5 separate regions of the Homo sapiens genome follow, and regions 2, 3, 4 and 5 are each reported to be linked to region 1. The links are microRNA targets in miRTarBase. Many come from high-throughput screens and were not tested one by one. Region 1 holds a microRNA gene; each other region holds the end of a gene's coding sequence. Distances are between the middles of the regions.

What was found. Region 1 holds the annotated microRNA hsa-miR-4786-5p (UGAGACCAGGACUGGAUGCACC, at 1,841-1,862, shown strand). A microRNA usually pairs through its seed, bases 2 to 8, with sites in the 3' UTR of a target mRNA and lowers its output. Matches are read on the target gene's strand: a 7mer-m8 pairs with bases 2 to 8, a 7mer-A1 pairs with bases 2 to 7 and ends in A, and an 8mer does both.
Region 2: miRTarBase lists AGXT as a target of hsa-miR-4786-5p. Seed matches in the 3' UTR shown: 7mer-m8 at 1,486-1,492.
Region 3: miRTarBase lists NCKIPSD as a target of hsa-miR-4786-5p. The part of its 3' UTR that is shown has no 7-base or 8-base seed match.
Region 4: miRTarBase lists SLC7A6OS as a target of hsa-miR-4786-5p. Seed matches in the 3' UTR shown: 7mer-A1 at 3,393-3,399.
Region 5: miRTarBase lists TMEM154 as a target of hsa-miR-4786-5p. Seed matches in the 3' UTR shown: 7mer-A1 at 1,731-1,737, 8mer at 1,354-1,361 and 7mer-A1 at 461-467.

What each region holds. Positions count from the first base shown.
Region 1 is chr2:239,939,821-239,944,924 of GRCh38, reverse strand. It overlaps MIR4786 (microRNA 4786), which reads left to right and starts at 1,831; the gene lies at 1,831-1,910. It also overlaps a transcript of NDUFA10 not described here. RefSeq lists an enhancer at 1-140.
Region 2 is chr2:240,878,238-240,883,324 of GRCh38, forward strand. AGXT (alanine--glyoxylate aminotransferase) reads left to right here. Exons shown (of 11, transcript NM_000030.3): 11 at 477-2,263. The coding sequence ends at 584. Among named protein-coding and RNA genes, the nearest start is that of AGXT, 12 kb to the left of the region's middle.
Region 3 is chr3:48,670,439-48,675,542 of GRCh38, reverse strand. It overlaps NCKIPSD (NCK interacting protein with SH3 domain), which reads left to right. Exons shown (of 13, transcript NM_016453.4): 13 at 796-1,699. The coding sequence ends at 999. Among named protein-coding and RNA genes, the nearest start is that of LINC02585, 9.2 kb to the right of the region's middle.
Region 4 is chr16:68,296,498-68,301,601 of GRCh38, reverse strand. SLC7A6OS (solute carrier family 7 member 6 opposite strand) reads left to right here. Exons shown (of 5, transcript NM_032178.3): 5 at 197-3,568. The coding sequence ends at 327. SLC7A6 (solute carrier family 7 member 6) reads right to left here. Exons shown (of 11, transcript NM_003983.6): 9 at 5,089-5,104; 10 at 4,792-4,975; 11 at 1-4,368. The coding sequence ends at 4,274. Among named protein-coding and RNA genes, the nearest start is that of SLC7A6OS, 12 kb to the left of the region's middle. RefSeq lists a silencer at 3,322-3,616.
Region 5 is chr4:152,624,127-152,629,230 of GRCh38, forward strand. It overlaps TMEM154 (transmembrane protein 154), which reads right to left. Exons shown (of 7, transcript NM_152680.3): 7 at 1-4,435. The coding sequence ends at 4,420. Among named protein-coding and RNA genes, the nearest start is that of TMEM154, 53 kb to the right of the region's middle.

The sequences.
Region 1 (5,104 bases):
CCCCCCACCTAGGGTGGTCCTGCAGCCTTTGCCTTCTATTGCGGATGGTGGCGGGTTGGCCGAGCTTTGGGGACCAGTTTCCTCCAAAGTTACTATGGCCCCAAGGCTCTGGGGACAGGGGCAGGTGGCTCTGGGCGTGGACAGAGCTTGCTCCTTGAGCTGGAAACCCTGGCTAACGAGCGAGCAGAGGCCCTGGGACCACCAGGGGCTGTCGAGCTGCACTCTCCAGGCTGCCAGAGGCTTCCATTAGGCACACTGGTGTTTGATTTTGTTTCCTTGGAAGACCTGGAGTTTTTGTCGGTTCTGAGTCATTTTTCTTGATCCGCGCTGCCAGTTCCATGAAGAAAATCACTTTCAAACAGATGTGGAGGAAAGTGCACCTCCTCACTTGTCCAGACCCGGCCTGAATTCACATGGAAAGGTAATCATTTCCCGCCATGAGCTCACTGAGAGTCTGACAGCACTGTGAGGGGAGGTGGCCAGCCAGGCACCCAGCCTGAGCCGTGACCAGAGGTCCGAGCCAGAGATGCAGCCTTGGGATCTCAGCCTGCGGCGCTGGCCCTGGGGCCACACTCAGCATGGGGGACGCCAGGCTGGAGCAGACGCCAGACCCAAACAGCCGCTCTGCCCCCGGGGACTTTGGCAAGGCTGCTGCCTACGTGAAATGATGGAAAGGTCTAGGCTGGCCCCAGGTCCTTTCTGGCATGGCCTCAGGATCTTGGCAGGAGGATAACAATGCCAGGAGGGGGTGGGCTGAGTCATGTGCCTCCTCTCAGGGGCCTGGCTGCAGTGGTCAGGGGCAGGGTGGCTCATTTTGCGGGCACCGGTGCCCTGCACCTGGAGGAGGACCAGCAACAGGACTAGCCAGGTGGCCGCAGGCCCTTAGGACACAGGGGAGGCCCAGGATTTATGGGAAGGAAGGAGCAGAGCACCTGAGTCTGGGGACATCTCGGGACAGGCACTGCCCCCAGCAGCCTCAGCTTCCCCCCATAAAAGGGACAGACGCTGCCCCATGCCTTTAGCTCCATCACTGTCCAGGGACAGGGACTAAACCCTAGACCCCTCATCCCCAAGGAGTCTTGGACTGCAGGTCCAGCTCTGCAGAGGGGCTGCAGGGAGCATCCAGGGCCCATACTCGTCTGCTCATCTCTCAGTCTCTGTGTTTATGGAACACCAGGGGATGCCAGTGCTGTGCCAGGAGGGGCGGTCGGTGCTGAGTGAGGCCTGCTTCCCAAATCAGGCACATTCTTATGAGACTAAGATTTGTCCCTGCTCATGGACATTAAAAAAATGTCAAAGACAGCAGGATTAAGCGGAATCACAGTGTCCTGCCCCCAGTCCCTAACAGAATAGAAAGGAAAAACTAGAAAAATAATCCCAGCAGAAAACAAACAAGGCCATACACTTTGAAAATTTGTAGCCAAAGACCAGGTGTAGTGGCTCACGCCTGTAATCCCAACACTTTGGGAGGCTGAGGCGGGAGGATCACTTGAGCCCAGGAAATTGGGGCTGCAGTGAGCTCTGATTGCGCCACTGCACTCCATCCAGCCTGTGTGGCACTGTGAGACCCCATCTCAAAAAAAAAGAAAGAAAAATTAGTAGCCAATAAAATAAGCAAAAGATTTCAGAGTAGAGCAGAAGGCAGATTCGTGTGGCTCTGACCTGCCACCAAGCCTGAGTCCCACTGGTACACAAGCGGAGCCCCAGGCCGCCTCTGTGCTTGGGATCTGGAGACAGGGAGTCTTGCAATGCCTCTGGCAGACATGGGAAGATAACTGTGAGTTGAAACTCTCCGTAAGAAGTGGAGGCTCCAGGGATGCGTTGGCCTGTGGGCATGGCCTGAGACCAGGACTGGATGCACCACTCTCCCTGTGATGAGGTGAAGCCAGCTCTGGTCTGGGCCATTTCACAGGATTCCAGAAGCAGGAGCAGAGCCTCAGCATTTGAACGAACCTTCTTCCACTTCGGCTGAGCTCCTCCTGCCACCACCATCCTTGCAGGCTTCCCGAAGGTGGCCTGAACACAAACTGCCTGGGCTTCCTGTGGCTAAGAGGGGAAGACGAGCCTTTGCCAGGTTTTGTGGAAAGAGTTAAAACCCCTCCAGTGCTGTGTTAAAACATATGAGGACCCAGTCAGAGCTGCTCGGGCTTGAAGAGAATGGAAAGGCAGGGAAGGGGAGGGCAAGTGACAGGCAAACGTCCCACAGAGAAACCCGTGACTCAGTGCTGGAGAAGGGACCACAGCATGCGCAAGATAAACATGCGGAAGGCAGAGGACGCACAGCTCGTGAACAGAAAAAAAAAATATTCCTGTGCTTTGCCTAAGAGAACAGTTTGATAAGAACATGAATTCAATAAAATAAATGTCAACAACGTATAAGACTAAGAAATGAAAATAAGATGTCAGACCTCAGGAAGCAAACAGAACCGAAACAGTGTCAGAACCAAACCAATACATTTCAAACAGCAACAAACGACATAGCAAGGCTGAAATTGCTATTGACAGAAATCCATCGTTCTCCAAGTGTGGCTCCTGGACCAGCGGCCCCAGCCTCCACCTGGGAGCTTGTCGGAAATGCAGGTGTCTAGGCTGCACCCAGGCCTGCTGGCTCAGGCGCCCTGGTGGGTGGGCCCCAGCAGCATCTGTGTTTAGCAAGGTGATTGCAGCGCACACTACCGCGTGAACACCGCTGCCCTAGAGGAAAGGCTGAAGACAGCCACAGTAAGTAAAGGTAAACGTGGTAGAGGGATGAAAACTGTTGTGAACTTTGTATATGTAAAACTAATTTATAGGAAGGTGGACAAAGGCAGTCCGGCAAAAGAATCACTGGTGTTCAGACCAAAGTGATTCCAAGTGAAATAGTTTGTGCACACATGGTGTGATCTTTCAATATGCAGAATCCATTTGTTTTTCTCATTTCAGAGGATTTTAAAATCTAAGGTCCATACTGTTTTGGTGCAGAAAATTCACTAGTTTTACTTTCATTTGCTTATGTTGAAAACTGATATTAAAATAAATTAAATGTAATTTAAAATAGCATTGATAGATCCCATTTCATGAAAGCATACCTGTGTTTCTGTTGATATACAGGCATAAAAATATCAGGATGTTGTTCACTGATGTAGATGGTTTTTCTGAAGAGAGGAATTTGGAATTTTTTTTCCTTTCTTCCTTGAACCTTTTTTTCTTTTTTTTTTTTTGAGACAGAGTCTTACTCTGTTGCCCAGGCTGGAGTGCAGTGGTGCGATCTTGGCTCCCTGCAAGCTCCGCCTCTCAGGTTCAATCATTTTCCCACCTCAGCCTCCTGAGAAGCTGGGATTACAAACGTGCGCCATCATGCCCAGCTAATTTTTGTATTTTTAGTAGAGATGGAGTTTTACCATATTGGCCAGTCTGGTCTCCAACTCCCGACCTCAGGTGATCTGCCCGCCTTGGCCTTCCAAAGTGCTGGGATTATAGGTGTGAGCCACCACGTCCTTGAACTTTGTCGTTTTGATGTCGAGGAAGGAACCTCTGACACCGAGGGTGGAACAGCCGCAGTTCTGTGCCCCCGGTGCATTCACATCATCGGGCGTGGGAAGTGTCTGTCCCTGTTTGTGAAGATACTTTACCCTATGTGCCACTCCCATTGCCCTTGTCCAGGGAGGCCAGCATTCCCTGTGCTTGAGAGATCTTTTTGTTTGCATATGTTCTGACATAATGTGTTGTTTCGTGTGTTTGCATTTTTAAGGAACGTAAATGGTTATGGGTCATACGTCTATTGCCTGTGTGTTTTCACTCAACACTGCCTCTGTAAGCTCCTTCCTTGTTGCCGTGGGTGCATCTGGCTTGCCTGTTTCTGCACCTTGTAGTGACCTTGCTGCTGTCCAGTTTCGCTTACCCTTCCTGGGTGGTGGGTACCCAGACGGCCTGCAGTGCTGCAGGAAGAACCTCACACATGGAGAAGAATATCTGTGGTTCACAGAAAACTGTGCATTGCCTAGAGGACACTCCTCAAGGTTATTGGATTCTACTCTGTCATCATTTAGAACTATCTTATAACTCTGTTCCTTGTAGGTCACTGATAGCAGTACAAAAGAATTCATATAGACGGGAATGTTCTGTGCTGTATAGTGGAAATCCAGTGAATACCTCCCATCCCCAGGAGAGAGCCCGGTTTGCCTTCACTTGCATATTGATTTAAATATCTCTGATCTCTAAGTGTGGCTATTCTTTGGATTCTGTTTTGAACTGGTGATAACATCTGTCTGATACCTTCCTTGATAAGTGAATAGACTAAATTTCAAATGTGTTCCTTTTTATATTTCTATGAGAGTCATGATTTTACTTTTTTTCTGAAAATTAGCTTTTAACACACATATCTCCTTATGGATCTGTGTAGAAATTTACTTGGAGAAATTTATCAAAGAATAGCATTGCTGGATGTGCTGGGCATTACTGATGTTCATCAATATTCAATCCTTGCCTCCTTCTGGAAACTCAGAGCGTACTTCCAGCAATGTGGCTCATTCTGTCCCCAGGCTGGGAATAGCCGTGACAGTGTCATTAGTGGGCCAAAGCAATGATAAGCTATGGTGAGATCCTTATGCCACACACTCTCTTCCCTTGCCACAGTGACTGCCAGTGTTTTAGCTCAGGGCTGGCAAACTGGCCCGGGGGCCACATCCCACTCACCACCTGTTTTTGTAAATAAAACTTTATTGGAACACAGCTGTGACGTGTCATCTGTGGCTGGTTTTGCCTGGAGTTGAGTATTTGTAACAGAGGCTGTATGGCCTGCAAAGCCGGATGTGATGTCTTTACCCTCCAACCCTTTACAGAAAGTTTGCCAACCCCTGTTGTGGATGGTGGAGCTTTCAGCCGCCTGGGTTCCTCAGAGGCGGTGGGAAGCAGAGCCTACCCCCAAGTCACACCAGACACCTGAGCAAGACATGACCCTTCCCCGGGCTGAGCTGCCAAGCCTGGGCAGACTTGTTGCCAGGCCTCTCCTGGTCAGCCCTGACTGAGTAGGGCTGGCTGCCCCATGGAATCGCAGCTTGGCCTGCACTGCAGCCGGTTCCAGGAGGGGCCATGTGGCCCTCGTCTCCCACACCTGGGATTATCA
Region 2 (5,087 bases), 940 kb from region 1:
CCGGGGTCATCCGAAAGCCCAGATTGCAGGAGCGTCCAGAAGGGCCCACTCTCCAAGGGGTATCCAGTAAAGCGTATCCTGTCGCCCCTGCTCCCACCCCAGCCCACTGAGGTCACCAGGTGCAGCCTTTATGATTCCACTCGGAACATCCTTCCTTCCCTCTGACCAGACCCTGGAACCAGGCCGGAAGCCCCACGCCTGGGCCTGGCTGTGTCTCTGAGTGGCAGTGGGGAGGGACCTTCACTGCACCACCCTGTCCTCCCGTGTGGCTGCGGGTGCAGAGGGAGGAGAGCCTGCCCTGGCCTGGGTGCTCAAGGGCCCCCTCTGTGACCTGCACAGGGCTGTCAACTCCCCTCATGGACGCTGGGTGGGTGGTCCTCACTCAGGTGAGCCCATCCTGGCTCTGGCCAGCTGTCGGTCAGGGTCAGGCAGGTCCCAGGCGGGAGGCTGACGTCAGCCCGCCCTGTGCCCCCCAGGTGCTGCGGATCGGCCTGCTGGGCTGCAATGCCACCCGCGAGAATGTGGACCGCGTGACGGAGGCCCTGAGGGCGGCCCTGCAGCACTGCCCCAAGAAGAAGCTGTGACCTGCCCACTGGCACACAGCTGGCACTGGCACACACCTGTCCCATGCCCACCCTGAGGGATCAGGAGCAAACAGACCCTGCAAGGTCCTCCAGGCCTGGGGACAGGAAAGCCACTGACCCAGCCCGGGAGGCAGAACCAGGCAGCCTCCCTGGCCCCAGGCAGCCCTTTTCCCTCCAGTGGCACCTCCTGGAAACAGTCCACTTGGGCGCAAAACCCAGTGCCTTCCAAATGAGCTGCAGTCCCCAGGCCATGAGCCTCCCGGGAATGTTTAATAAAGGGCCTGGCCAACTCTCCTCACTGTGTGGGGTGGTCTGTGAAAGAGTGAGAGGAGAGCATCTCTGCTCCCTGAGCTGCCTGATTGTGGACTTTAGGGGGACACTCCTCATCCTGGAGCCCACAGGGTAGATCCTCCCCTGGAGGAGGTGCTGTCACCACACTCTAGCCCCAGATGTCACACCCCCAAACGTCCTCACGCACCACATCCAGGTGAACCCACACGGCGCACAGGGCTGGTTGGAGACCCCTGTCATGGACAAGGGTACCTGCGTGCTGGAGAGCGCACAGCCAGGACCTGAGCCCATGACACGTGGAAGCCTCCAATGGAAGGTCCCCTATGCTCCCATCCAGCCAGTGCCCACCCCTCAACTGCCTGACTTCTGTGACCATAGATCAGCCTGGCATATTTGAATTTATTTATTTATTTTGAAACGGAGTTTCACTCTTGTTGCCCAGGCTGGAGTGCAGTGGCACGATCTCAGCTCACTACAACCTCCGCCTCCCGGGTTCAAGCGATTCTCCTGCCTCAGGCTCCGGATTAGCTGGGACTACAGGTGTGCACCACCATGCCCGGCTAATTTTTGTATTTTTAGTACAGATGGGGTTTCACTATATTGGCCAGGCTGGTCTCGAACTCCTGACCTCAAGTGATCCACCTGCCTCGGCCTCCCAAAGTGCTGGGATTACAAGCGTGAGCCACTGTGCCCAGCCATAGTTGAATTTCATGGTCAGTGGAACACACAGCAGGTCCTCCACTGTGCCAGCTTCTTTCACTTACTGTTTTTGACACTCACATGTACCGTCGTGGGCGCCGGTGTGTCTTTGTTGCTGAGTGCCGTCCCGTCATATGGACGTGCGTCGTGGGCGCCGGTGTGTCTTGTTGCTGAGTGCCGTCCCGTCATATGGACACCTCATGATTTGTTGGTTCATCACCATAGTTGAGCATCTGGGTTATTTCTATTTTGGGGCTGTTATGAATACGGAGGTAGTGAAATTCTTACTCAAGCCTTCGTGTGGCCATATATTTTCATTTTTCTTGGATAAATAACTAGGAGTGGAATTGCAGGGTCATACAATAGGCTTAACCTTATACGAGACTGCCACGAAATTCTCCGAAGTGGCTCTTCCATGTTTCATTCCCGCAGCTACAGCGTCCAGGGTGCTCCACGTCCTCACCCACACTCCATGTTGTCTTTTTTTGCTAGGGGGTGTAAAATCCTGTCTGATTTGGTTTTAGTTTGCATTTCCCTGATGCCTATTGATGTTGAGCAACTTCTCATGAGCTATCGGCCGTTTGTAGATCTTCTGAAAAGTGTCAGTTCAAATATTTTGTTCATATTTGGATTTTTATCTTCTTATTGTCAATGTGTGATCATTTTAAAATATATTCTAGATACTATCAGATACGTGTGGCATGAATATTTCCTCCCTCTCTGTGGCTTACCTGTTCATTTTCTTTTCTTTTTTCTTTCTTTCTTTTTTTTTTTTTTTTTTTTTTTTTGAGAAAGAATCTCACTCCGTCCAGGCTGGAGAGCAGTGGTGTGATCTCAGCTCACTGCAACCTCCACCTCCCGGGTTCAAGAGATTCTCCTGCCTCAGCCTCCCAAGTAGCTGGGATTACAGGCATGCACCACCACACCCGGCTAATTTTTGTGTTTTTTTGTAGAGACGGGGTTTTGCCATGTTGGCCAGGCTGGTCTCAAATTCCTGACCTCAAGTGATCCACCCACCTCAGCCTCCCAAAGTGCTGGGATTACAGGCATGAGCCACCACACCCAGCTTACCTATTCATTTTCTTAATTGTGTCTTTCAAAGAGCAGGTATTTTCAATTTTGGTGAAGTCGTATTTATGAATGAGTTTTTTTCTATGGTCTGGGCTGTTTGTATCTTGTCTAAGAAACCTTTGCCTACTTTGAGGTCTGGACGGTATCTTCCTGTGTTTTCTTCTAGAAACTTTACAGTGTCAGCTTTTGTATTTAGGTCTATGATACACCTCATATTAATTTTGTGCACAGTGTAGAAAGGGGGTCAAGGTTCATTTTTATCCATACTGATATCCCAGTTCCAGTAACGTTTGTTAAACAGACTTTCCTTTCCCCATTGAACTGACTTGACAACTTTGTTAAAAATCAGTTGACTACACATTCATAGGTCTATTTACAGCCTCTCTTCTGTTTCATTGCATCCTCGTGTCAATCCCATGCTGTTGCAAATATTGTAGCTTTACAATAACTCTTGAAATTAAGAACAAGTCCTCCAATGTTTTTCTCCCTTTTAAAGGTTTTTTGTATTCTACATCCTTTGAATTTCTGTGTACGTTTTAGATTCATGTTGTCTATTTCTTCAGAATAGCTTGCTGAAATTTTGGTAGGAACTGCACCAAATCTATATATCAAGTTAAGGAAAATGGAAATAAAGTATAAATTCCATTTCACAAACAGAAATGTAAGTATTTTAAAATTACTTTCAGCAATGTTTCTAGTTTTCAACATACAGCAAAGTGGGAGGGGGTTATTTAAGGAAAGCCAGGAACCCAGGAACAGGAAAGCCACTGATCCAGCCCAGGAGGCAGGACCAGGCAGCCTCCCCGGCCCCCAGCGGCCCTTCTCCCTCCAAGTAGAACCTCCTGGAAACAGCCCACTTGGGCGTAGATCTTTTGTTAGATTTATTCCTAGGTGTTTGATCTTGTTGATGCTGTTATAAATGGCATTTGAAAATTTTCATTTCCAGTTGTTTATTTTTTAATATATAATCTCATTTTTTTCTATATTAATTTTGTATCTTCTGACCTTCCTAAATTCACAAGGCCTAGTAGCTTCTTTGTAGATTCCTTTAAATTTTCTAAGTAGATAATCAAACTCTCTGTGACTAATGAGAGTTGTACATCTTCTGCCTTTTATGTACTTTTTCTTGCTTCATTGCAACGGTGTAGGCCACAAATACAGTGCTGAATCTCAGTGATGAGTGTGCACCTTCTCGCCTTGGAGACGTGTTTAATGTCTCAGCGTCAGGCTGACGGCAGCAGTGGGGTTTCTGCAGCTGCCCTGCTCTCACAGGCAGGAAGTCCCCACCTGTCCTAGTTTGCAGAGGGTATTTATCACTAACAGCTGTTGTATTTTGTCAAATACCTTTTCTGCCTATGGTGAGATGATCATAAAGTTATGTTTCTATATTCTACGGATGTGCTGTTTTGTTGACTGACCTCTTATTTTCTCGTAATATATTTGTCAGGTTTTGATAGCAAGGTTACATTGGTCTTGTAAAGTGGTTTGGACAGTATTTTCTTTTCCTTTATTTATCAATTAAATTTGTCTAGAATAGGGACTATTTTTTTTTTCCTTATATTTTGGTAGAATTGTCCAGTGAAGCTTTATGGGACAGGAGCTTTCTTTATGGGAAGGATTTTTTTAATGACTTCTAATGTTTTCATAGACATAGAGTTCTTTAGATTTTTGTCTCTCTCTTTGTGCCCGTTTTGGTAATTTGTGTTACCCAGAGCATGCTTGATTCCAAGTTGTTGAATGTGTTGGCATAAAATCATCCATAATATCCCTTTATTATCCTTTAATGCTTACGGGCTCTCTATTGATTTCCCTGTTTCATTCCTGGTATTGGTAATTTATATTTTCTCCTTTTTTTTCTCCCATTGATCAGTCTTGCTAGGGGGTTACTGATTTTATTAGTCTCTCCAAAAAAGCGACATTTACCATCATTTTCTCAATTGTTTGCTTTGTATTGATTTCCACTCTTATTGTTCCTTTTATTTTACTTCCTTTGGTTTTAATTTGCTCCTCTTTTTCTAGCTTCCTATGGTAGAAGCTTAATTGATTTTAAACATTTATTTGTTTTCTAGTATGAGCATTTAAAGCTAAACATTTCCCTCTGAGCGCCTTCTTCACTGCATCTCCCAAATTTTAATCAATGGTGTTTTTGGAATCACTCAGATCAAAATATTTTATAATTTCCTTGTGATTTATTCTTTGAACCACAGACTATTTAGACTTATACTGTGTAATGTTCAGATATTTGGTGGATATTCTAAATGTATTTTTGTTTTTTATTTCAAATTTATGTCTGTTGTGGTCAGAGCTCATACTGTATATGGACTTCAGTATTTTGAACATGTACTGAGAGTCTGTTTTATAAACTAGCAGCAGTCTCGGTGACTATCCCATGGACACGAGATGAACGTGTCTTCGTCATTGTCAGGTGTGAGCTTCTACAGA
Region 3 (5,104 bases), not on the chromosome of region 1:
ATATATATATATATCATATATATATATATATATGATATATATATATAGATCATAAGGGCTGTTGGAACTGGTTCAGCCAGAGGTGTTGGGAGTATAGGTTGGAGGAGAGGCTGTTGGAGATGAATTTGGGGCATATGTAGGAGGTAGGATGGCCAGGTCTTAGACATGGCTTGGATATGAGGTATGTGGGAGACAAGAAGCAAAGAGGACACCATATTTCAGGCCTGTGCTTTTGAATCGGCAACAGTGCTCTTTCTAAAGGTAAGAACATGAGAAAACCTTCAACTCTGGGAGGATGGGAAAGATCATGAGTTTGGTGGTAGATATGTGGATTTGAGGTCTGTCACATGTGCAGGAGATGTCAAGTGGGCAGTTGAATATTCTTGTCTGGAGCTCACAGGGGAGTTCTAGGTAAGAGGTATGAGAGTGGTTCACTATTTGAAGCTGTGAATGTGCACGAGGTCTTCCAGGGTAAGAGAGGATAGGGTGAGAAGCAGAGGGCCTCTGACTGATAGACAGAGGCACCTTGAGAGACCCAGCTTCAAAGGATGGGCAGGACTTCCCTGGGCAGGCCACATACTTGGGGCTGTCTGTGGCTGGGATGATTCGTTTATTCGCTTACTCAAAAACTATTGAAGACCAATTCTGTGCCAGGTATATTGTGGGTGCTGGGGATGCAGCCCTGATGTTCAGGTCCACAGCCCTGGGGTCTGTGGGACAGTGGGGTCCTGTCCCTGTCCAGTGGTGGTTGCAGTACCTCCCTGGGGTCCCTGAGCTGGCCTGCTCTTCCCACAGCTGCGCATGGAGTACCTCTCCCTGATGCATGCTATAGTCCGCACCACACCCTACCTGCAGCACCGCCACCGGCTACCCGACCTGCAGGCCATACTGCGACGCATCCTGAATGAGGAGGAGACCTCACCCCAGTGCCAGATGGACCGCATGATTGTCCGAGAGATGTGCAAGGAATTCCTGGTGCTGGGGGAGGCTCCCAGCTAGCACCTTGCTGTCCTCCCTTCCCTGCAGCTCCAGTCAGTGTGCAGGGGACTCAGGGGCTTGGCCCTAAGAATGTTTTGCACTGACAGTGGGAGGGGATAAGGTGGCAGAAGGAACCTGAGCAGGACCCCCACCTGAAGTAGAACTTAAGAGAGGGGCCAAGTGTAGGATTGGGGACCATGGTCTGGGAGCTGTTCTGGGGCAGGGGGAATATGCAAGCTAAAGCCCCTCTATACCCTGGTAGGCTTCCTCTTCAGCATGCCCCCCTCTTCACCCCACACCCATGTGTACACTCAGAGTCCTGCTGCCGCTCCAGGCTGGACCAGACCCCCATCCCCACCCCTCCTGGTCTGTATCCTGGGCCTCAGCAAGCCATGCCCCTGGGGTGAGGGGAGGCATCTCCCACCAGCTCTATTCTTTGCCTTAGCTTTGCAGTGAGTGCTGCTCATGTCCTCCCCTCCACCCGCACATGGGGGTCGCTGCCCTTCACTCCTACCCCCAGAGGCCTTGGCCAAGCTGCTGCTTTGAAAGCGGGATCTTGGAGACAGGCCATCCATCCTGGAGCCTCATGGAACAGGATGATGGCACTGAGAAAGCCAATGACCGAATCTCTTTTCTCTGTAAAAATGTAGACTGAAAAGCCATGTGTATTTTCCTATGTGCTGTAGCTCTCCTTTGGAAATAAATCACAGGCATCTGGAAACAGGCTTCCCTGTATGATCTTGGGAGACAGTGGGAGAGGATGGGCAGAAGTACTGGGGCCTCAGGACCCCATCACTGCAGCTTGCACTGACTTCTCCAGCCTGAGGAGGTGATGGACCCTGACAGGCCTGGCCTTCAAGGCCCTTTGAGCCCTGTTCTAGCCTCTCTTCCCTGAGCTCCACTTTTCCTGAGCCCCAGCCATAGCCAAGTGCCCCTCAGCAGCCCATTCGCAGGTGTCTGCATCTCCAGGCTTCACTTACACACTTACATCTTTCTTTTTCTCCTTTTTTTTTTTTTTGAGACAGTCTCACTCTGTTACCCAGGCTCACTGTAGCCTTGACCTCCCAGGCTCAAGTGATCCTCCTGCCTCAGCCTCCTGAGTAGCTGAAACTACAGTAGCCACCATGCCCAGCTAATTTAATTTTTTTTTTTTTTTTTGGTAGAGACAGGGTCCTACTATGTTGCTCAAGCAGGTCTCAAACACCTCAGTTCCGGTGATCCTCCTGCCTTGGCCTCCCAAAGTACGGGGATTATAGGCGTGACCCATCGCACCGGCCCGCTTACATCTTTCACTTACATCTTTTGCTTTGCTTTGAATACCGCTACTCTCTCCCCTGTTGAAACCCTATTGTCCTTCATAGTTGTTCTCAAATGAAGCAGGCCCCTACCTACCCCCAGCCCTGGCCTCTGAATGCTTGGGCCTGTCCAGCCCTATTTTCTTCCCCCATTTGTCCTTGTTTCCAGCAAGATCACCTCATCTTGCAACCTCAGCAGAGATCTGGTAATCATGGTAGGGCAGAAGGAGGGTCTTAACAAGCATGGGGTTACGTTTCCATTAGTGTTTTAGAGGAACTAAGGGCCAAAATTTGGCAAAAACTTCACTCTTGCAGACTCTCAAGTTAGCAAAGAAGTTCTCACCATAAGTTTGGGAGCAGAGTCAGAAACCCACAGGCAGACACCAGTCAGAAGTGTTGTTTCTGTTTTCTAGATTGAGTCTCACTATCTTTTCAAGGCTGATGTCCAACTCCTGTGCTCAAGCAGTCCTCCCACTTCAGCTTCCCGAGTAGCTGGGACTACAGGCACACACCACTATATAGGCTTCACACACAAGTGGTTTTCATCAGTTCCCTTTATTTTTTACCCAAACTCTTCATTCATCAGATGTTTCCACACATCAGCAATCACTGACACTGACTTCTGGTCATGACTTTTTCTTTCTTATTGGGGTGCTGAAAACAGAGGGCAGTTATCCTCCCAAAAAGAAGGTAAAGCAGCACAGGGAGGCAAGGGCTAGGGATGGGGCCCCCCAGCAAGAGGCTCTCAGAAGTTGAAGCAGCAACATTCCATAGGAAACCCATGGGAGGAAAGTATGGGGTCCTGGTGGGGGATGCCCTGCTCACCGCTTACTGTCAGAAGGCCAGGTGCACAAACTCACTGGGACCTGAGGAGGGGTTGACAGTGTTTGGCCCCCAGTAAAGCTCTGTGGGACACAACCTGGTTACTAACTTTTTTTTTTTTTCTTTTTGAGACGGAGTTTTGCTCTTGTCACCCAGGCTGGAATGCAATGGTGTGATCTCGGCTCACTGCAACCTCTACCTCCCAGGTTCAAGCGATGATTCCTCTGCCTCAGCTTCCCGAATAGCTGGGATTACAGGTGCCCACCACCACATCCAGCTAATTTTTGTATTTTTAGTAGAGACGGGGTTTCACCATGTTGGTCAGGCTGGTCTCGAACTCCTGATCTCAGACGATCCACCTGTCTCAGGCTCCCAAAGTGCTGGGATTACAGGTGTGAGCCACCGCGCCCAGCCCCCGCTTTTTTTTTTTTTTTTTTTTTTCAGATGGAATCGTGTTCTGTCACCCAGGCTGGAGTGCAGTGGTGTGATCTTGGCTCACTGCAACCCTTAACCTCCTGGGTTCAAGCAATTCTTCCTGCCTCAGCCTCCCCAGTAGCTGGTATTACAGGCGCCTGCCACCACACCCGGCTAATTCCTGTATTTTCAGTACAGATGGGATTTCGCCATGTTGGCCCGGCTGGTCTTGAACTCCTGACCTCAGGTGACCCACTCACCTCCGCCTCCCAAAATGCTGGGATTACACGCATAAGCCACCACGCCTGGCCTGGTTACTACTTTTAACCCTGGAGACATTCTGCCTCCTTTTCATATCCAAAGTCAATGACACTGACTTCCAGTCACAACTCCTTTCTCACTGGGGTGCGGAAGGCAGGGAAGTATTCTTATGAGATAGTGTATTTCAGTAAAAAGCACAGGTCCTCAGGAAGCTGAGGCAGGGACATCGGACAGCCTTTGTGACTTGCTGTGTTTCCTGTCATGATGCACACACAAACCCTGTGGGAACGGCAGGACTGTGCTGTGCCATCTGTCCCAGTGCTGGCACCTAGGTCAAACAAGGTATGGCCCCATGGCAGAAGCCTCTGCTCACTTCTGCAGGAGTGCCCAAGGTGGGCCCTGGCACCTGTTTGTAAGAGAAGCAGAAGCCCCAGCTGATGAAGTTACATACATGCTGACTCCTGGTAGCAAGCGTGCTCTGAGGGGACTCCAGGACCTCTTCAGCAAACACCCTTGTGGTGGCCTCACAACACAAAATTACAACCAAAGGCAGATTATGATTAGTCAGAGAAGTCCTCTTGGGGAGGGAACTGTCTTTGATAGAACACGTCTATGGCTGCGTGGAAGGTTGGTAGATGTGATATGTGGGTAGGCAGTAGGAAGGGCAATGAGACAGAGCATTAAGCCACCCCAAGAAAGGGGAGTGTTTGGGTAGAGTTGAGAAGAACTCAAATTTTGGGGGACAGTGAGGGGGTTTGGGCTGACTTCCTGGGTCAGAAGTTTCTGAAGCTGCAGCTAGGAATGGGTGTGTAAGTGTGCAGGTGGCTCACACCTGTAATCCTAGCACTTTGGGAGGCCGTAGAGGGAAAATCGCTTGAGCCCAGGAGTTTGAGACCAACCTGGACAGCATAGGAAGACCCCATCCCTACAAAAAATACAAAAATTAGCTGGGCGTGGTGGCCCACACCTGTAGTCCTAGCTACTCGGGAGGCTGAGGTGGAAGAATCACTTATGCTCAGGAGCAATTGCACCACTGCACTCCAGCCTGGGTGAGAGTGAGACCCCAACTCAAAAAAAAAAAAAAAAGTGCTGGCACCGTGTCTTTGGCATATGTGCTGAGCCATAAGCTGCACATGCATAAGGCCAACCCCAGGATGAGGGGTCAAGTAATTCTGTCTCAGCCTCCTGAGTAGCTGGGATTACAGGCGTGCGCCACCACACCCAGCTAATTTTTGTATTTTTAGTAGAGACAAGGTTTCTCCTTGTTGGCCAGGCTGGTCTTAAACTCCTGACTTCGGGTGATCCACCCTCCTTGGCCTCCCAAAGTGCTGGGA
Region 4 (5,104 bases), not on the chromosome of region 1:
GAAGGAACTTGGTTTAGATGATAGGAAAGTGATTCCTTCTTTAAAAAAAAAAGAATTCTATATTCTTTTTTATTTATTGAGCAAGGATTTTGCATTACAATCGGGAACAAAAACAGACCTTTCTGAGAAGAGAAGGGGCTCCTGCAGTAGCCTAGGAAAATCACATTTAGAATCCACTCCCGGGATGTCATTCTAGGCTCTGCTGACTACAACAGCCTGAGTGAGGAGGAAAGAGGCAGCAGCAGACAGCGGATGTGGAGCAAGTACCCTCTGGATGTGCAGAAGGAGTTCGGCTATGACAGCCCCCACGACCTGGATTCAGACTGATGGTCTTGTGATGTCCATGAGGTTCTGCCACATGCCCTTGAGGGCTCTGAGTCCAGAGTTAACTGCCCTGCTGACATCCTGTTAGGTTTCCTAGCTTAACATGTGGAAGGAAAAGCATATCAAGCATATCGGGCGGCACCATCCCACCACAGTGAAAACTTATGTTAGGGGAGTGAGTCTTTTCCACTTACAGTAGGACCCCTTTGCCTCAATCAAAAGTGACCCTACAGTTTGAAAGAAAAAAAAACGTTGAAAAAAGGAAGGTTTCTTTAGCTTTAGCTTCTTGGCCCAGGAATTTTTCCTGGCATTCAGGTTCTGTGCTGAAACCACAAGGGAGGGGGAGGTTCCCATTTCATTAGCAGTAAGCTTCTGCTGTGCCATACCACCAGGCTGCCTGCCTCTAGGAAAACCCTGTTCCTTTTGATAGAATCTAAAAGGGGTACCAGTGGGTCCCTTGTAGCAATACAGACTGGATAGTAATGGCCATTAGGGCAGAAAGTAGTCTGAGCAGTGGGAGATTTTAGTTAACAGCTATTTCTGCTTCCAAACTCTGATAACGGTTGTGAAATTACTGACTGACTTCCTTTGGCAGTGGGGCCAAGAAACAATATATATGAATGTGATACATGTGTTTAGTAAAATCTAGCTTTGAACATGGAAGAAAGTAATTCTTTGAAAACCTTTTAAATCTGAATATCTAAAACAGGGAGCGGTAGTGAAATAGAAGGTTCAGCATTGATTATAAATACCAAGGACTTAAGGCAAGGGAGGAAAAACAAAGTACCTTCTGAACTTAGCTTTCCACTGAGTAATGTTTACTCTTCACAGCACCCACCACAAAAACAAACTACTATCAACAGGATCAATTTTATTAACAACTTGTATCTCTTCTAAGCAGACTCTGTCCGTATGCCTTTCCAAACCATAGCTGCCTTAACTGACTGCCTTGGTGTTTATTCTAGCGTAACATTGTCCAGTAGAACTATCTGCAGTGATGATATGTTCTGTGTCTGCACTGTGTAGTAGTAGACACGGGTGGCTGCTGAGCACTTGAAATGTGATTAGCGCAACTGAGAAACTGAGCTTTTAATTTTATTTCATTTTAATGTAATTAGCTACACGTGGCTAGTAGCTGTTGCAGCGGACACCACAGGTCTAAGGAAACAACACAGAACATTCAGCTAGGGGTGTACCCTCATAGCCTGTGAGTGTCTCTTACTCACTGTCATGGGGGAAGGTGAGTTACACAGGGAGGTACCTTCTTGCCGCCTCTTTTAGGATTTCCTAAGTATCTCTCCTTCATCCTACCTGCCATCATTCTTTGACTTTATGTCCATTTTCTAAACCTTTGCCTACACTTGCTCTTATCTACATGGAGTTGTTCAACCTGCCGAAGTGATTAAATTCTGTGTACACAGGCCGTATATATTGCAGCTAATTAAAACAACAAACATCCTAGGCATGCACAAAGGTATAATTCACCGTTATAACAGGCAGCAACTTGTATGTCTAATATTAGACATCTTGCTTTCTGTCTGTAGGCATAGAAACAAAGGATTGAAAGCCATTCTCATACAGCAACCGGGTGAAAAAAACAAAACACTGTGCTGTTACAATGTGCTCCCTGCTATTTATACTCATTAAGTTTCCCCAATATTAAAGGGCTGACAACTTAATAAACTGTACTCACTGCAAAAGGGATAATAAGCACACCAGGAAAAGGATTTAAGGAGACAGACAACAAAGAGCTGGCAGAAATTAATTCCACCATGAAGCTTGAGTGCTGTAGGGATCCTCTGGCTTCGCTCCCAAAGAGAGGATCCTGGGAGAAGTCTGTATCCAGCACAGAGGGGAAAAATGCTGTCACCATCCAAAAATGAAAGGAGGATGACATGGCTCACTAAGCAAGTACTAGGGCACCTGGCATGTGAGGTCCTTGCTTTCCCTAGAAGCCACTGGTGGGGGGCAGCAAATTCCTGGGATTAGCTGGTTATCTGGTGGAGAAAGCTAAAGCTGGGGTCAGGGATCTTTAAAAGGCAAGCACATTTTGCTTAAAGGATTAGCTCCAGAGGAGCCCTGGGATGGGTGCCAGCTTAGCTCAGACAGAAGTCATGTTCTTAGCGTTCAGGCAAGTCAGCCTTTGCATAAGACACCCTGTCGTCGGGCAGGAATTTGCCGTTACAAATCCCAAACCCATGACAGTAGGAATGTCACCCCATGCTTCACATATGCATTATGCTCTGAACCCAGGGCAACTATGACCATGCTTCCTTCAATCTTTATTGAGCAAATATATGGCCAAGGTTATTCCCTTATCTGTGACTGGGTGGAGAAGAATGGTCAGGAAGGGAGACTGCCTCACTGTTGACCAATTCCAAAACCTAAGGATAAGCCCATGGGGTATGTCAAGCTAGCAGGTTCTTCTCGGCCCAGGATGACAGTGTCTGGGGGCATCACAAAACAGTTGTACAATCCAATGCAGCCGTCCTGCTCATACAGTAAGATCCATTAGGCCAGAGCAGGCCTAACTTGGGTGGAGAGCCCAGCCTGAGCACCAGAATTAGTTGCTTCCACTTGTGCAGCCTGCTGAAGAGCCGGACTCAGGTTGAAGCAGCTTTCCTCCCAGTCTTCACTGATCTCCACAGGGAGAAAACAGAAGTCCCCACAAGTACCAAGCTCTTCCTGAGACTGCAGCCACCACACCTCGGGGAAGGGGAGGCTGGCAGGAGAGGAGTACACTGTCCCGGTGACCCACACCAAGGTGGCTCCAAGTGTAAACAAAGCCTGGTGCCAGGGACAGAAGAGGATGCAGCCTGATGTGAGGTTTTCAGAAAAGTGAAATGACCTAGCACCAGGTTGGGATTGCTTGGGTCTGCACAGCAGTCCCTCACACTGCCCTTACAGAGAGGAACAGGTTATTTGATGACTTGGGCCCATGAGATGTTCTCCAAGCCATTGACAGCTGAGAGAATTCAGGTGATCCACCTGAATATCAGAAGTTTCAGCCCTCTTAGAGTTCGTAACAGAAACCCAGAGATTTACTGTCAGCTAGAACAAAGATGTAAGGTCTCAAGTAAAATAAAGGATTGTCCTTCAAAACAGCAATATTAACAGACTTCTGACTCAGGAATTTGTTCATCTGTCCTTGCTGGACCTGAGCCAAGTGCTTGTAACGTGATCTATGATCTATCTGTATGCTAAAGTGTAACAGGTACGTGAGTAAAAAAATCTTTAAGGTTCATTGTTGCAGGTAAGACTCAATAGAAATTGTGCTAAACAGCATAAAACCTGTGGTCAGAGTCTGACCCAATACCACAGACATTTCTGAGCCCAAAGGGACTCAGTTTTGGGTACTTTGATTTTTAAATACAATCAGCCTATTGCATCCTGTAGATGAAGAGACACGCATGCTTCGTTAGAACTGGTGTTCTGGACTAAATATCAATAAATAAGGGAATATAACTCTCTCCCCAGGGAAGAATTTTGAGCCAGAGGAAGAAATGGTAGCATTTCAGGCCTTTAAAGTCAGGTGTTGTACCTGGTCAGAGAAAAACTTCCCATAAAGCAGCCCCTCTATAGGGACTCCTAGTTCAAATACCAAATTCAGAAGCCACCAGCCCTATCAACCTAGCATTCCCTCTTCCCCACTGCACTTTACCAAGTAAATATCTGTAAGAGCTGCATCTACCTATCAGGAGTAAAACTAAATGACCATTCCCCCCGTTCCCCAATCTTCCCCCCACCCTCTGAAGCCCCCACCTTGAGGTTGGCCCAGATCCTGAGTCTCCTATAGCTTACCAATAAGAGTGAGCACTGGCCCTGAGCCCCACTATATGATTGGGTCAAAAGGCTCCTTTAATTCAGGAGAGTTGGGCCCACAGAGTCTTGTTATCAGGATTTTGCTGGTTGGCCTGCCTTCCAGGCCTCAGAAAGCCACCTCTGACCTCTAGTCAGTTTTCCTCTCATCCTTTTTTTCTTCGGCTACATCAAGCTCAGTCAGGACACAAAAGCAAAGCTGCTGGGTGCCTCTGGTGATAGCAGCTAAATGAAAATAGAGCAAGCACAGGGTTTAGTAAACATCTAGCTACAGCCCTAACCTGAACAAGGCTGACTAGTAACATCTATGGCTCCCTCGCCACCTGCCCCTTAAGTACCCTATATCAGGCTTTGCCCCTGTCTCCCAACAAGCCTCATCATCCTCTGTCCCATGCCCAACCAGAGTCTGATGCACAACTCATCTTCCCAGGTGATTTGTGTTGTCAGGAGGTAATGTTTTAGCCCCAAAATAGGACACTAAAATTAGAACTAAAGTGATCATGTCAAAATCAAAAGGGAAGTCGTGGACAGCTGGGTCACATGGCCTCCAGCAAATTCTGAGTATGGGGAAGCTGTTAGCCACCCCCCACCTCTGCATGCGCATGCACACATAGCCGCCAGTGAGTAATGGGGCACAGAGAAGCTCACCCAGGACATTCCGAATAAACAATGGCCTCCGGGACTCTGGCAGGTAAACACCCATGAAGTAGAAAGGGACTCCAGAAAGGGCAATCCCGATGCCAATGAGGGAATTAATGGTGTCAGTGAAGAGGGGCACTATCACCAGAAACACGGAGCATATGCAGAACACGATGGGGAAAAACACGCTCAGCTGAAATAGAGGGGGTGAGAGATTAAGTAACGTGGGAAGAGGAAACAGCTCGTGGGCAAGAAGCCACCTTAGGGAGATGGCCCACCCCTCCTAGTCTGGCCAGAGCTGCTGACCTTGAGAGGCCGGGGC
Region 5 (5,104 bases), not on the chromosome of region 1:
GTTTTCTTAAGCACTTTGGTTTAGAAACTTCTTAAAATATCATTCAAAAAGAGCTTAGAGCATGTACAGAGTTCATATAAAGCTCTATTTTACATAATTGTATATACTGCTATCTCAGGAACATGATATGTTATTTAGAAAAGATAGTAGGGCAAAAAAACAAAACACAAGGTCCAGGTACAAATAATTCCAGCCAGTTATGGTGGCTCACACCTGTAATCCCAGGACTTTTGGAGGCTGTGGTGGGAGGATTGCTTGAACCTAGAAGTTCAAAACCAGCCTGAGCAACACGGTGAAACCCTATCTGTACAAAAGATACAAAAAATTAGCCAGTCCTAGTAGTGCACACCAGTAGTCCCAGCTACTTGGGAGGCTGAGGTAATAGAATCACCTGAGCCTGGGAAGTTGAGGCTGCAGTGAGCCATAATCACACCATTGCACTCCAGCCTGGGCATCAGCATGAGACCCCGTCTCAAAAAAAGAAAAATAAAAAAAAACACCCAAAAACTATCCCCAAGAGGACTAAGAAGGAAATAAAACTTTGGTGCCAGACAAGACAGTATCAAGATAAAGCCAAAGAGTTGCTAAAAACAAAAAATAATAATAATTCAGGCAATTGGTTGTCTGGGTTCTGCAATTTGAAATATTCCACTAGACACTAATATACAGGAACTCTTTTGGTCATTGTCACATAGCAGAAATGCTGCTATATGTGAAGTTGTTCTGGACTGCCTGTTATAGCTATTAAATGGAAACCCCAGAATTCATCCTGAATGTCTCTGAATGTGAAAAGTCACATGCGTTAATTTAATTCAGTATAAAATTTCCATGTTCTCCCACAAGGAGGATTTCAGCAGTGTCTTCCCAGCATGAAACCATGTCTTATCACTCCACCAGATTCAGAATTGGTACTAATTCTGACAGAAGCTGAAACTAAAGCCTATGTTTTCTTTAGTCAACATAAGGCCTTTTTTCAGAGATGGTGTGAATTAATAGTTTAAACCACCAAAATAAAAGAATAGACAAGTATTTTCTTAACATATCCATTTCCATTGCTAGAGCTGCGGTGATCAGCAGAAGCATCTGCCTGGCTGTCAATATCAAGGTGGATCCAGGCTGTTGGAACTGGTGGATCCAGGGGTTGGAACGGAGGAATACTAAAAATGAGACTTGGAACTTGGAAGGCCTACACCACGAGGGCCAATTCTGCCATAAGCCCTATTGCCCAGATATGTTACATAAAACATCCAGATATTACAGTGAAAGTCAGTGTGTGGCCAGACACAGTGGCTCACAATTGTAATCCAGCACTTTGGGAGGCCGAGGCTGGTGGATCACTTGAGGTCAGGAGTTTGAGACCAGCCTGACCAACATGGTGAAAACCCCATCTCTACTAAAAATACAAAAATTAGCTGGGCATAGTGACACAGGCCTGTAATCTCAGTTGCTTGGGAGGCTGAGGCAAGAGAATTGCTTGAACCTGGGAGGCGGAGGTTGCAGTGAGCCGAGATCGTGACACTGCACTCTAACCTGGGTGACAGAGTGAGACTCCATCTCAAAAAAAAAAAAAAAAAGTCAGGTGAGAAGAAGTAGCACATAGTGAAAATGAATATAATAATTTTACAGCTGGTCGGGCTCAGTGGCTCATGCCTGTAATCCCAGCACTTTGGGAGGCTGAGACAGGAGGACTGCTTGAGCCCAGGAGTTTGAAACCAGCCTGGGCAACATAGTGAGACCCTGTCTTTAAAAAATAAAATAAAATAATTTTACAGCTTTTGGTTCTCCTGTATTATACAGCATAACTAGGAGAAAAAAAAACTATGAAATTATTTTCCCAAGACCAGTTTTACTCATCTTTATCACATTTGTTTGATGTGGGTTATCCAGGAGCCACCTACATCAAGGTGGATCCAGGCTGTGGTCTTGCATTGGGTAACAAAGCCCTTCCCAGAGGGAGGAGTCACACCATTGGGTCAAGAGTCATGAATGGGTATTTTTACATATTTATTAAAACAAGTTTCCTGAGAAGTTTGACTAGGCTATGTTGTTGTTAACCTAGTTTGCTTAAAATGTACGAAAATGCAATCAAACTTACATATCTTTTAAATATTCGAAAGTCAGATTTTGTTCTGATTGCCCTATCCAATTAGGGCAAATTAGTGAGGGTTTTTTTGGTTTTTGTTTTGTTTTTTTAACAATAGTCTGAAACATAAAATTAAGTTTGGGTTTAAAAACAATTCTTGAAACTGTCATAAACATATGATATCTATTGATTAAACAGTAATAAAAAGACACAAGGTACAAGAATTGAGGCTTGGCTGTTCTGGCTGTATACTAACTTCATATACCCTGACAGAATAAACTATCTTTTTAAAAAGTGCTTTGTACACTGCACAATTATAGCTTTACCAAATAAAAACTCAATGACATGTCGCTGAAATTTGCTTCTTCTAGAATTTGAAATTATTTAAAATACTGCATGAGAATATTTTTATCATATTATATAATATGACTTCATCAACATGAAGTTCCAGGACCCCAGATGCCTCTCTGAGAAGTTCATTATTTGATAGGGTTGGATCAAATGTAAAGGCCCAGGTGTTCAAAGATCTTAGATACCTAAAGAGAGAAAGGGGCAAATGGAGGCTCTTCTGAGAGTCAAAATGTTGATGAGAAACAAACTGAAAGTAGCACACATAGGCAGAAAAATAGACAAGTTATGATTCAGAAAACAATTGTATGCAATTTTGGCATAAATATCTGAGAGTCACTGTGGGCCATGAGTTGAAAAGGAACATGCAAGAGAGCAAGGAAAACACAAAGCCTCATTCAGATGTGCTGGTGAGAATATGACAGAAAATCTGTTGAAGTTGTGTACCATGAAGTCTGTCTTTTGTCAAAGTTCTATGCAGTCCCAGGATAGCGTGATAGCAGTGGTTAAACACAACCAGCTAGTTATAGCTTTCATTGTATGGAAAGACCTCTCTGGTCTGGAACTCTGCCTTTGAAATTATCCACGTAGTTCAGAAGGCAAATACTTGTTAAAGGGATCCCAAAAGGTAGGAGACAAGTAGTTTTTGTTATGCATTAGGGCAGACTTTCAAGCACAAGACACAAAATTGAGCAGCAAATGTTTGGGTAGTCCCATCTCCCTTCGGTTTATATGTGGGTAGTAAAATAAATAAAATTTTCCTTCTTTGTCTCTTTCTTGAAATAAAATATCAGGTATCCAAGGAGAGCTGAGGATTCTCAATTTGCTAGATTGCTTTAAAGGGGTCAGATTTAGAAAATTAAGGAATAAATGAAGAACAATTTTACTGGAGTAGGTGTGGTCAATAGGCCCTTTTCCATTTTGTGCCATTGCTTTTAGCACAAGGATGTCAAAAATATCACATAGAATGTCATCTCTGATGGACTGACAGAGACCTCCTGTTGTGCTGTGTTAGGACATGAGGCTTATCCCAGCTTGGCGGGAGAGAATGCTAAGCATGATGAGTGAGATCTGCCACAGGCACGGATATTTCCTGCTCCTCTTCTGTTTGTTTCAAACCACCTTCAGGATCTCTGAAACATAGAAGGCTGACAGATGACTCCCACCTGCACATACTTCCTACCTACATGTCACATCCAAGGGAGGTATGGTGAAACAAGTGTGAGCTTTGCAGAAATGCTGACAAGCAAGGGAATTTCAGCTGAGGAGAACATTAGTTCTTTCACTGAAGATTCCTAGTTTCTCTGAGAAGTTCTTAAGGGTGACCAGACCTGGCCATGCTAGGGTCTACAAGTTACCAAACGCCACCTCATCAGGACTGTGGACCCCTCTCACTGTGTCTTCTTGGCAGGCAGAGCTTACTGACCCCCTGGGATGGTGTATTCATTAAAATACTTGCTGTGTTTGGTGTCTTTTCCATGACATAACACTCCTCGAGAAAAGTTCCTGCTGAATGTAGTTTACCTGTCCCACGACTTGAATAATCAGAGGAAATTATCCAAAGCTGGTTACTGACCCAAAAGGAAACCATCGATAAAACAGCTTCCTGATTTAGGCCCTAAGGAATGAAGCAGAAAGGTGACGAACATTTATCATGACCAGAGTGAGTTCAGTGAGCTAGAAGTTGGCTGAGAGGAGGCAACACATGTTGATCAGAAGTGAGCACATCACCCGCCTCCTTCTCCACCCTCAGAGGCAGCGATGGATGGCAGCCAGGCCTTTTCCTAGTACTTCTCAATTGCACATTCTTCCAAGTGCAAGTGATGCCATCATTAGGAAGAGTGGGCGTTGGAAGAAACAGCAAAAGGTTCTTGTGTCTATGTTGATTTGAAATTAATTAAATTTGTATCCTCTTCATCCTCTGTTGGCAGCCTCAGCAGACTCCCTCAGGGGCTGCTTCTCTTGGAAAACATGAGCGCCATTCAGGTTTAGGATTCACTGTCACTGTAAAAAAAAAAAAAAAAAAAAAAAAAAACAAAAAAAACACACACACACACACAAAACAGTAATATATTTCTTTCTTTTTTTTTTTTTTTTGAGACGGAGTCTGGCTCCGTCGCCCAGGCTGGAGCGCAGTGGCACAATCTCGGCCCACTGCAAGCTCCACCTCCCAGGTTCAGGTCATTCTCCTGCCTCAGCCTCCTGAGTAGCTGGGACTACAGGCACCCACCACCAAGCCTGGCTAATTTTTTGTATTTTTTTTTTTTTTAGTAGAGGCGGGGTTTCACCATGTTAGCCAGGATGGTCTCGATCTCCTGACCTTGTGATCTGCCCACCTTGACCTCCCAAAGTGCTGGAATTACAGGTGTGAGCCACTGCACCCGGCCAACAGTAACATATCTCTAAGAAGCTAAAGAGAGCTGGTCACTCCATTATGGAGGTGACTGAAGAGATCACAAACCATCAGGAAGCCAATGGTGTCCAGCTTACAATTTCTGAAACGAAGGTCAGTCTAAATTTTATATCTGATCCCTGAGGAAGAAATCCATGAAAGCCAAAAAATAATCCCTAGCTCTTTCTCCTCATAGCCCTCCCCAGTGCTGATGCAGAGAGAACCAGATGGAGTTGGGGGTTCCCCGTTTAATAAATCTAATCCCATTCTCTACGAATACG